3 linked regions of the Homo sapiens genome follow. The protein of the gene in region 1 interacts with the protein of each later gene in a pairwise test. Each region holds a gene or a part of one and is shown in the gene's direction. Other genes may lie near its edges.

Region 1 (3,651 bases):
TTAAAAACATTTTAATAGCTTTTTTGAGATATCATTCATATACTGTACAATTCACCTTTAATTTAAAGTGCACAATTCAGTCATTTTCTGTATATTCATAGATATGTGCCATCATGATCACGGTCAATTTTAGAACATTTTATCACTTCTAAAAGAAACCCCATACACTTTAGCTGATATCCCCCGTCTTCCATTCCCCATATGCAACTATTAATCTACCTTCTGTCTATAGATTTACCTATTTTGGGCATTTCATATAAATGGAATGATATGTGTTTTTGTGACTGGGCTTCTTTCACTTAGCTTAATGGTTTCAGGATTCACCTGTGATGTGGCATGTATCAGTACTTCATTACTTTATATGGCTGAATAATATTTTATTATATGGATATGTGATATTTTGTATATCCATTCATCAGTTGATGGACATGTTTTTTTTCCTCCTTTTTGGCTATTATGTATAATGCTACCGTAGACATTCTTATATAAGTGTATGTGTGGACATATGGATTCATTTCTCTTGGATGTATATCTAGGAGTAGAATTTTTGGGACATATGGAATTCTGTTAACCTTTTAAGTTTCTGCCAGATTGTTTTCCAAAGTGGCCTTCCTATTAGCAGTGTATGAGAGTTCCAGTTTCTCCACATCCTTATCAGCACTTGTTATTACCTGACTTTTTTGTAGTTTTGATTTGCATTTCCCTTATGGTTCATGCATCTATTCATGTGCTTCTTGGCCATTTGTGTGTCTTCTTTGGAGAAATATCTATTCAGGTCAAACTTTTGCCCATTCTTTAATTGGGTTATTTGTCTATTTACTATTGGATTGTAAGAATTCTTTATATATATGCATATTACATATATAATCCCTTATCAATCAAGGGATTGACAAGATACAGTCCCTTGACAAATGTGAGGTCATGAGGACCTACTATGTTTTCTTTGAGATTTTATAGTATTGCTATTACATGTAGGTCTTTGATCCATTTTGAGTTAATTTTTGTATACGATATGAAGAAAGGGTTCAAACTTTATTCTTTCGTATGTGACTATCCAGCACTGTTTTTTTTTTTAAATTTTATTGATTTGTGTAAATTTATAGAGTTCAAGTATAATTTTGTTACATTGATATATTGCATAGCGGTAAAGTCAGGGCTTTTAGTGTATCCATCACTGGAGTAGCCTACGTTGTACTCATTAAGTAATTTCTCTTCATCCACCCCACTCTCACACTCCCCACCCTTCCAAGATTCCACTCTCTGTCATTCCATACTCTGCTTCCACATGTACTTGTTGTTTAGCTCCCACTTGGAAGAATAGGCAGTTTGTCTTTCTGCAGCACCATTTGTTAAAGAGGCTGTTCTTTTCCCCATTGATTGGTCTTAGTACCCTTGTAGAAAATCAGTTAGCCATAGATATATGGGTTTATTTCTGGATTCCCAATTCTATTTCATTGATCTATATGCCCACCTTATTCCAGGAAACACTTTTTTTTTTTTTTTTCTGAGATAGGTGTCTCTTTGTTGCCCAGGCTGGAGTGCATGCAGTGGTGCAATCTCGGCTCACTGCAACCTCCACCTCCTGGGCTCAAGTGGACCTCCTATCTCAGCCTACCAAGTAGCTGGAACTACAGGCACATGCCACCATGCCTGGCTAATTTTTGTAGGTTTTGTAGGGATGGAATCTCACCATGTTGCCCAGGCTGGTCTCAAACTCTTGGGCTAAAGCCATCTGCCCACCTCGGCCTCTCAATGTGCTGGGATTACAGGCGTGAGCCACCATGCCTGACTAGGAGACACTCTTTTGATTAATATTGCTTTATAGTAAGTTTTGAAATGGGGGAGTTCTCCAACTTTGCTTTCCTTTTTCAAGATATTTTAGCCATTCTGGAGCCCCTTGCAATTCCATATGAATTTTAGATTAGCTTGTCAGTTTCTGCAAAGAAGCCAGCTAGTATTTTGATAGAGATTGTGATGAATCTGTAGATCAATTTGGGAGTATGGTCATCTTGATATTAAATCATCTGGTCCTTTTTTTTGTTGTTGTTGAGATGGTGTCTTGCCCAGGCTGGAGTGCAGTGGTGCAATCTCAGCTCACTGAAACCTCTGCCTCCTGGGTTCAAGCAGTTCTCCTGCCTCAGCCTCCAGTAACTGGGATTACAGATGCACACCACCATCCCTGGTTTATTTTTGTATTTTTAGTGGAGACGGGGTTTCACCATGTTGACCAGGCTGGTCTCGAACTCCTGACTTCAAGTGATCCACCTGCCTTGGCCTCTCAAAGTGCTGGGATTGCAGGCGTGAGCCACCGTGCCTGGCCTAATCATCTGGTTCATGAACATGGGATATCCTTTCATTTATAGTTGTGTCAATTAATGATGAGGATACATTCTGAGAAATGTTTCATTACAGTATTTCATTGTTGTGCAAACATCATATAGTGTACGTACACAAACCTAGATGGCATAGCCTACTACACACCTAGGCTATATAGTCTAACTGTTTGCTCCTAGGCTACAAACCTGTACAGCATGTTACAGTACTGAATACTGTAGGCAGTTGTAACACTGTGGTAAGTATTTGTGTTGGATACGTTTGTGTATCTAACACAAATACTTAGAAAAGGTATAGTAAAAATATGGTATTTTACATATATATGTGTATATATATATGTGTATATATATGTGTATATATATGTGTATATATATGTGTGTGTATATATATATATGTGTATATATATATATATATATTTTTTTTTTTTTTTTTTTTTGAGACAGAGTCTCGCTCTGTCACCGAGGCTGGAGTGCAGTGACACAATCTCCGCCCACTGCAACCACCGCTTCCCAGGCTCAAGTGATTCTCATGTCAGCCTCCTGAGTAGCTGGGATTACAGGTGTGTGCCACCATGCCTGGCTAATTTTTGTATTTTTAGTAGAGATGGGGTTTTGTCATGTTGCCTAGGCTGGTCCCGAACTCCTGACTCAAGTGATCTGCCCACCTTGGCCTCCCAAAGTGCTGGGATTAGAGGTGTGAGCCACCATGCTGGGCCGGTATTATAATCTTATAGGACCACCATTATGTATGTGGTCTGTAGTTGATGGAAATGTTCTGATGTGGCATACAACTGTAATTAGATCTTCTTTAAATTTCAATAATGTTTTATAGTTTTCAGAATTGCACTTTTTTTCTTAAATTCTTCAAAATACTGTTTTTAATGGTATTGTCAGTGGAATTATTTTTCTTAATTGAATGTTTGGGTTATTCGTTGTAGATGTTTAAAAACACTTGATTTTTATATATATTAATATTGTTTCTGAATCTCTTCTGAACTTGTTTATTCATCCTAGTAGATTATTTGTGGGTTCTCTATGATTTTCTTGTAAAGATCATGTCAAGGGCAAATATATATAGCTTTATTTTTTCTTTCCAATCTGGATGCCTTTTATGTATTTATTTATGGCTAATTGCCCTGGCTAGAACCTTTAGTAAAATATTCAATAGGAGGGGTAAGAGTGTATATGCTTTTTTATTCCTGATCTTAGGGCAGGGGTGTCCAATCTTTTGGCTTCTCTGGGCTACATTGGAAGAATTGTCTTGGGCCACACATAAAATACACTAACAATAGCTGATGAGCTAAAAAAAATTGCAAAA
Region 2 (4,197 bases), on another chromosome or scaffold:
CTGTCCTTGTGGCAGGGATGGTATCTCAAAGAAAAATGGAGGTACTGTTACCAGAGAAGGGGCAATGATGACTGCTAAACAAACAAATAAACAAACACCAAAACAGTCTTCCCCTGTGTATTTCCAGGGAGAGTAAAGAGGATGGTGAGGGGCTTCAAACATATCTATGTTCATTCATTCCATTCATTTATTCACTCAAACATAATATGGAGTCTGTACTATTTTCCAGGAGCGTTATTGAGTAGGGACTCGAACGCTCTTGAAGTCTCTCTAAAAAGAAAGAGTTCTTATTAATGGGAGGAAGAGAAGCCTGGTAGGAGATGGTTACCTGGAGTGGTTATGGGGCTTAAACCTGTTTTTGTTTTTTTGTGGGGAGAGGGGGATAGAATTCAACGACACAAGAAAGAACTTTGCAGCAGTCAAATTTGTATCTTTTGGGGTCCTGTAAAAGCTGGAAAACTCTTTAGTCTGGAAGAGGAAGATGGACAGTCAGAGAAGCAGATTCCAGAATTCATGTCCTGTCTAACCCACAAATGGAAAAGCCCGTTCATGGTTTTAACATTCCATCACTGGGCCTCCCGGGGCCTCCTCGGCGAGTCGGCAGAGGGAGCCATTCCCCAATAAATTGCCGCGCGAGGCCTCCGAGGACCTGGGGGGATTTTCCTGCGCGTCCGGGGAGTTCTCTCTCCGCCCCTCCATGGTAAAGCAGACTATCCCACCCTCCACCCTCTGCCTTCACCTCCCCGCCCCACCTTTCCATGTACTTTGCTGCCACATCACATTCTCTGGCACGGCTTAATCACCATCCTTTCTGGGTCCCACCTTTGCGCTTTCTCCCCTGACACCACTGAGGACCCGCCGTCCACTCCAGTTGGCCGCTCGGGCGCCGGCCACCGTCCCACAAATCCTTACAGAGGGTCTAGAACACCTCCCAGGGACTCTGCCGAGGGACTTGCACCCAACGTGGGTTGGGAATCAGGCGGGCACCCACTCTGACACCCCTTCGGTCACCCCCTGCGGTGACCCCAACATTTGCTAACTTCGCGACCAGGCCTTTGGCGGGGTCACCCACCAGGCGGTGGAAGCCGCTCAGGCAGGGGCGACTCACGATCGAGGTGCAGCAGTCAGGCCGGGAAGATCCTGCATGTTGCGCTAGGGACTGCGCGCGGCGCCAAGCGACAACCCCCCAGCGGCCACTGCCCCGGCAGCAGCAGCTGCAGCAGCGGCAACTGCTCGAATCCCGGCCCCGGCTCGGGTTACCCGCCCCCACCCCCTCCAGCATCTCGGGCCAGACAGAGAAAACCTTGTTCAAGTTTGCAGCAAGTACTTTCCCGGTGCGCAAAACTGGGCGACTGGGAACGCGTTGAGACGTTCCTCTTTCCCGCTTCTCCACCTTTACGCCTGAAAGAAGACTCCCAAAGATTGCTTTCTTCTGGGACGCTGCTTGGACGCTAACCGCGTTGATTGGAACAGATTTTGTGTCTTGGCTGGCTTTGGGTGAAGACCGGGGAGAAAAGGTTGCGCTGCGATTCTCAAGATCTCTGGACCTGGGTAAGAGTTGGGCAAACTCAACTCCGGCGGCTCCTGGACCTTGGCCGGACGCCGGAAGGCTTCTCATGGGCGGGGGTCACATTTTCCTTAGCCAGGGTACCGGGGTGCGGCGTGAGGTGGGGCGAGATGGGCTCAGTCTGCGTTGTTCATGCGCTTCTTAAGGGTTTATTGTTGTTTGCATTTGGTTTTGTTACATGGGATTGTGTAGGAAAATCCTGGAGTATTTTTGATGGAGAGACATCCTCATTACGCATTTTATTTTGCATAATTCCTGCCCTTGTATTGCCTTACCTTGTGTTTGTTTCATTTTGCCGGGCGATATAGCTGGATGTAGGGAGATTTGTGGGGAATCGGACTGAGCTTGAAAGGCAGTTTCAGCTGGGCCCTTTCTTCTAGGTCAGTTGAACTTCCTTTCTGGGATCTTCACTGTTTTCTAAACTTCTCTTTCTCCCGTCCTTGGTATTCAGATTGTGCAGATAACGCTCTAGGCTGGCGGGATGCTCCCCTTTCCTGAGTTCTCAGCGATCAGTAGGGGTGTGAGGTCGCAGTCTTAGACCAAAGGGGCCTTGTCAGTATGCTTGGCTCCTTAAGGAGTGCTGGGAGGGACGGTTTTTCAAGTGATAGTTACTTAAGAAAGATAAATCCGGTGTTGATCTTTTTCTTTTAAATTCCTTGTTAGAGGACTTTTACGCCTGGTTTAAGGAAGTGTTTTGGCCTTAATTTTCTTTCTGGAAGTATTTTTCTTAGTGACACCACTGAGCAAATGAATGATGGCAATATCTTTGCTGCTTCTTTAGAAAATATCCTCACGCAAGGACCCACATTATTTAGGAGAAAGTCAAAGTTGGAGATCTTATTAGCCAAAATTAGCCATTATTATTGTTCTTAGGCTGTGATAACCATGCTGTGCCAAGGCAGAAGAGAATGACATTTCTTCTTGTTCTTCTTGCCTTACTCCTTTATATCCTGGGTCTCACTTTGTGTATAGGGTTCCCAAATAAAAATGCTTCATTCCTTATGGACAGAAATACTGGGGCCAATTTATATTATCCAGAAATGTCATCTTCCTGACACGAGTGCTCCAAGAGGTCAGCTTGCAGGGAACTTTTAATTTTACCACTGAGAGTTCAAAGAGTTCAGTTGGTAAACTCTGGGCACCCGCCAGCCTGGGTTCAGCTCACAACTCTGCCACTTTTCAGTTCTGTGATTTTGGGGTAAGTTACTTAATCTGTTTATCCACATATGTAAAATCAAAATGATAATAATAGCACTTACATCAGACAATTGTTAAAGGGATTAAGTAAGTTAATGCATGTGAAGGACTAACAAGCCTGACACATAGTAGGCACAAATTAGCTTTATTATTATTGTATAGCTAGCATTAACTATTGTTGTATCCCTCTAGTATAGCTTCTATTAGCTGTCAGTAAGTGTTAGCTATTATTCCTATTTGGATGGACTTTGAAGACTGTGCTCATCTGTAAGCTTCACTACCACCTATTGTCAAACTTAGCTCAGACATGATCTTTGTATTGCTTTTTTGTTGTGGCACTTTCAGTTGGAAAAATAAAGGTGTATATGGCAGAGCTGGAATTTATAGGGTGGTGGGTCATGGATGGGCACCAAAGACTACTTGGAACAGGTGAGGAGGTGGGAAATCTACACTCAGTTCACAGCCTGTATACCTCCTTGGAAATCCTTTACATTAATATACTTTCTTTAACCTATTTTTTAGAGGTCACTCATTTGTTCAGTAAGTATTTATTAACCATCTATTACATGTCAAGCACTGTTTTAGGTTTTATATTTTAAAAATGGCTATGCATGAGTATTGGCTTTATGTGCCTCCTCCCATTTCAAGTGTGTGACCTAGCACTCTATAAATTAAATCCCAAGTATTTTTAGCTACACAATTTCCATACCTGTTAAAATGCTCATAAGAGCACATAAAAAGCACGTATCATTGAGAAATTGAACAAAATATTCCCTATGACCTCAAGCAGATTGCTTTTCTCCATTTAGGCATCAGTTTTATTATGTATAAACTTGTGTTGAGAGGTGGGGAAAGAGTAGAATAACCTCCAGTGTTCCTTCTGGCTCCAAAATCCTTAAATTAGCTGCCTTACTTCATTGGTGGCTGTTTTTGAACCCCCACTTTTCTCTTTTAACATTTGTTTTAGGTACATAAATTACGTTACTTCCATCTTTGCATATTCATCAAAGTGAGTAACAACATCGATAATTAATGAAAAGGGAAAAGCGTTTATCTCTGTCTGTCTTTCACTATTCTCAGACTTTGGTTTATACCAGAAGCATGAAGTGGGGAGATTTGTTAAAATATTAGAGTGAACTATGAGAAATTGCTGATATTTGACCATTTTTGACCTAAATAAATGGCAATTTTGTATGGTTCAAACTATACAAACCCTAATCCCTTCTGCCTTGATTTAGAAGTAGTAAGTCTTCTGTGAGTTGTGAGAAGTCTGCATTTTTACAAGTTCCCCAGGTGATTCTAATGCAAAACTCAAGTCACATGCTCATTTAGCAGCAGTGAATTTACCTTCTTTGTGATTGTCTGCTTGGTTTAATAGTGTATTTCTAAAATGCAAATCTGATCATGTTATTCCCTTGTTTAAAAATCTTTGG
Region 3 (3,651 bases), 1.7 Mb from region 1:
CTGGGTGAATGGGCGGGGGTCATGCCTCTCCCATTTGAGCAGGACCCTCCAAGGGACCATCCTTATTCTGCTCTCTGAGAGGTCTGCTTAGAGGGGTGACTGGAGGGCCCGAGAGAACCGTCCTTCCCCTGAGTCCACAGCAGCCATGGAGAGGAAGTTAATCCCTGAAAGTTTACTTAGAAATTTCAGGCAGCCAGCCAACCCTGAAAGTGGTCCTTGAAATTGAATATACTTGTTATATAAAGAGTGGTAACAATAAGAAATACTAGTACCCCAAAGGAAAAATGAGAAAACGACATGCATAGCTAATTCACAAAATAATTACCAATGTCTGCAAAGCATTTTTAAAAAGGTTTAGTCTCTCCAGTAATTAAATAAAGGGATACAGTAGTCCCCCCCTTATCTGGAGGAGATATGTTCCAAGACCCCCAGGGGATGCCTGAAACTACAGATAGTACTAAACCCGTATTATGTACTGTGTTTATTCCCATCTATACATATCTATGAGAAAGTTTAATTTCTAAATGAGGCACAGTAAGAGATTAACAACAATAACTAATAATAGAACAATTATAACAATATATTGTTATAAAAGTTAGGTGAATGTGGTCTTTCTCTCTGTGTGTCAAAATATCTTACTGTACTGCCCACGGGTAGCTGAAACCCTAGAAATCAAACCCAAAGATAAGGGAGGACTACTGTATTTTTAAATGTGTTTTTTTTGTCTGTTAAATTATATATATTTTTAAAACAGAAATGCTCATTGCTGCTGAGCATGCAGAGAGAAGACAGGCCCCCCTTTTACTTCTGCTGGGAGCACTAATGGTTTTACTGTGTGGAGGAAGAAATTTGATAACATATAGTAACAGATTTAACAATATTTATGCCCTCGGACTCTGTCATCCGACTTCTAAAATCCTTCTAAATAAATAACCCAATAAATTTTAAAAGTCTAGGTTCTGGGATATTTGTTGCAGCATTATTTACCCTATCAAAGAGTTGGAAACAACCTAAATGAACCAAAATAAGTAGTTTACTAAATAATTATGGTCAACCATCCCATACAATGTTTGGCAGTCATTAAAAACCGAACTTTAAAGAATAGACAACTACATAGTGAAATATATTCCGAAGTGAAAAAAGCCATCTATGGAACTGTATATGCACAGTGTGACATTTCATAAGCTTGCAGAGAAAATCAGCTATGATGCATGCAAATGTTAACAGTGCTTGTCTCCATGTAGTGGAAGTAGGGGTGGCAGTCTCCCTTCTTTATACATTTCTGAAGTTTCCAAATGTTTTACAAAGAGCAGGTGCTGCTTTTATGTTCAGAAACCCTACATCTTTTTTTTTAAATAATGAAGTGGCCCTTATGTTTTTTCTGGCCTGGTTACTCTCCAGGCCACTGAGCAGAGCCTTCGTGCCCCTAACCAAGTGCTCTCTGTCCCCTCAGGGCAAGCTGGAAATGACCTTGGAGATTGTAGCAGAGAGTGAGCATGAGGAGCGGCCTGCTGGCCAGGGCCGGGATGAGCCCAACATGAACCCTAAGCTTGAGGACCCAAGGTCAGTGCCCAGCCCCTGAGCCCCAATGCCCACAGGTCTGGGGGTATAGGCCACAGTCCAGGAGGCATCCCATTGCATGGCCATGTAGAAGTCACAAAGCCCACGTGGCTCAGAGAGGGGCACGACTCATCCAAGGCCACACAGTAAGTTAGGGGGAAGGTGATGGGCATCTGTCCAGAGAACACTGGGCTCAGCGAATTCAAGATGCAGGTGCTATTGGGTACCTGTTGGTTGTGTGCCAAGCATGCTATCCTATGCATGTGTACATTGTGCTATGGAACCTTCCCTGCAGGGTAGTTGTTATTATCCCCATTTTACAGATGAGGAACAATCTCAGCAAAGTTAAATAAGGGCATTCCAGCTAGGACAGTGGTGAAGCAGAAATGCTCTCACCTGGTCTGATTGGCTCCAGAGCCCGATCAAGGTCTTGACCCTACCAAGCTGCCTTCGGTGGCTCTCCTATGGTGCCAGTGTGACTTTCAAATGGTTTTTCAGCCTTCATTTTTCCATCTGTGAAATGGGGAGCCCAATCCCTGTCTTCCCTACATCACAGACCTCTTGGGGAGATAGACCAAGCCAATGGATGTAGATGCTGTGAAGGCAGTTACAGGGGCAGAGTCACTGAAAGATGGCTGTGGGGGCTCAGGAATGTGTTTGCTGGATCCCGCCCCACCAGCCTACTTGGCTCAAGTTGGATTTAGCATAGATGGCTCAGTTAGTCACCATGCTGTGATTAGCACCGTGTGCCTGAGTGCCATGGGGCTGGCAGAGCAGTGAGAGGCACCCTTGCCTAAGGATGCTGGGATCTGCACAGGAAGAAAAGAGAGACCCGTGAGACACCAGTGTGCAATCTGATGTTAACGGGGCCATGATGGAGACCCAGAATCCTCCACGTATTTTGAGATGTGGAGCTGGCCTAGGGAAAGGTTTTGAGATTCTTGGTTGTGAGAGAACCAGCTTCCTATGTTCTCTTCCCACCGTTGTTCCCTGAGCATGGACTAGCCATGTGCATCTGGGCAGGTGTCTTGGCTTATCTGGGGCTCGGTGGGCTGGAGAGCACTTTGAAGCACTGCCCAGCTCCTAAATCTGCAGTTTGTGATTAAGTCCTGGGTCAGGAATGGGTGAGGGCACCAAGGAAGGTGTCCTGGAGAGGATGGCAGAGAAACTGGGCCACTGAGGATGCTTAGGGCTTGGCAGCACCCAGAAGAGGAGGGCAGCACAGGTGGGGGTGATACTGTAGCAAGGGCTTGGGGGAGAGGGAATGCAAGGTGCAAAGGGCTAGTTTAGGGACAGGGCCTGGGCAGGCGCTGGGGGTGGACTGTGGAGGGCCAGGCCATTGGACCTGCTGTTGAGAGAAGAGTTTGGAGAAAGCAGCCCTAGTAAAGGATGCCCAGTTGACCTCCGGGATCTCGCTTCCAGGCGCCCCGACACCTCCTTCCTGTGGTTTACCTCCCCATACAAGACCATGAAGTTCATCCTGTGGCGGCGTTTCCGGTGGGCCATCATCCTCTTCATCATCCTCTTCATCCTGCTGCTGTTCCTGGCCATCTTCATCTACGCCTTCCCGGTGAGCAGGCCTGACGACACTGTGGTGGGGGAACTCTGGGTCTAATGGGGGAGTTCATCATTGTCCTCAAAGAGCTCTCCCAGTCTAATGGAGAGAAGTAACCTCTGTCCTTGGAGAGCCCCTGGTCTGATGAGGATACAGAGCCCAGCTCTGGGGAGTCTCCAATCTGGTAGGTGTACAAAGTTCTACCCTTGGAGGCTCTTAGTCCAGTGAGAGAAACTGAGTTCTTGCCCTTCATGGTGAGACAAAGCTGTCCTCAGCAAGCCCCTAGAATTTGTAATGAAGGGGTTAGGAGAAGATGAGGCCCTTTGGGTTGCGGTGGGCAGGGGGACTTTCTGGAAGGGAGGTGTGGAACTGGGTCTGAAAGGAAGGTGAGATGTTGATGGCAGAGCAGAGAAGGTCCCTTTGTCTTAACAGCAGTTGCAAATCCAGAGGAAGGGAGGAGCTGGGGCTGGGAGAGCATCTCAGGGTCCACCTGAGGCACTCAATAGAGTGTGTCCTGCCTCCTGCAGCAGGTGGGC

Evidence for each region.
Region 2: the proteins of ALMS1 (region 1) and MEGF10 interact in a two-hybrid assay, tested with the Homo sapiens proteins (one large-scale study listed by IntAct).
Region 3: the proteins of ALMS1 (region 1) and DYSF interact in a two-hybrid assay, tested with the Homo sapiens proteins (one large-scale study listed by BioGRID and IntAct).

The regions. Positions count from the first base shown.
Region 1 is NC_000002.12:73,392,330-73,395,980, forward strand, and holds part of ALMS1 (centrosome-associated protein ALMS1), read left to right. Parts: intron 1-3,651. UniProt on the Homo sapiens protein: Involved in PCM1-dependent intracellular transport. Required, directly or indirectly, for the localization of NCAPD2 to the proximal ends of centrioles.
Region 2 is NC_000005.10:127,289,506-127,293,702, forward strand, and holds the start of MEGF10 (multiple epidermal growth factor-like domains protein 10 isoform a precursor), read left to right. Parts: upstream 1-1,290; 5' UTR 1,291-1,303; coding exon of another isoform or gene 1,304-1,618; exon of another isoform or gene 1,619-2,071; intron 2,072-4,197. Other genes in the region: uncharacterized protein LOC105379199, read right to left, coding at 1,304-1,618. UniProt on the Homo sapiens protein: Membrane receptor involved in phagocytosis by macrophages and astrocytes of apoptotic cells. Receptor for C1q, an eat-me signal, that binds phosphatidylserine expressed on the surface of apoptotic cells. Cooperates with ABCA1 within the process of engulfment.
Region 3 is NC_000002.12:71,679,548-71,683,198, forward strand, and holds part of DYSF (dysferlin), read left to right. Parts: intron 1-1,453; coding exon 1,454-1,563; intron 1,564-2,982; coding exon 2,983-3,130; intron 3,131-3,651. UniProt on the Homo sapiens protein: Key calcium ion sensor involved in the Ca(2+)-triggered synaptic vesicle-plasma membrane fusion.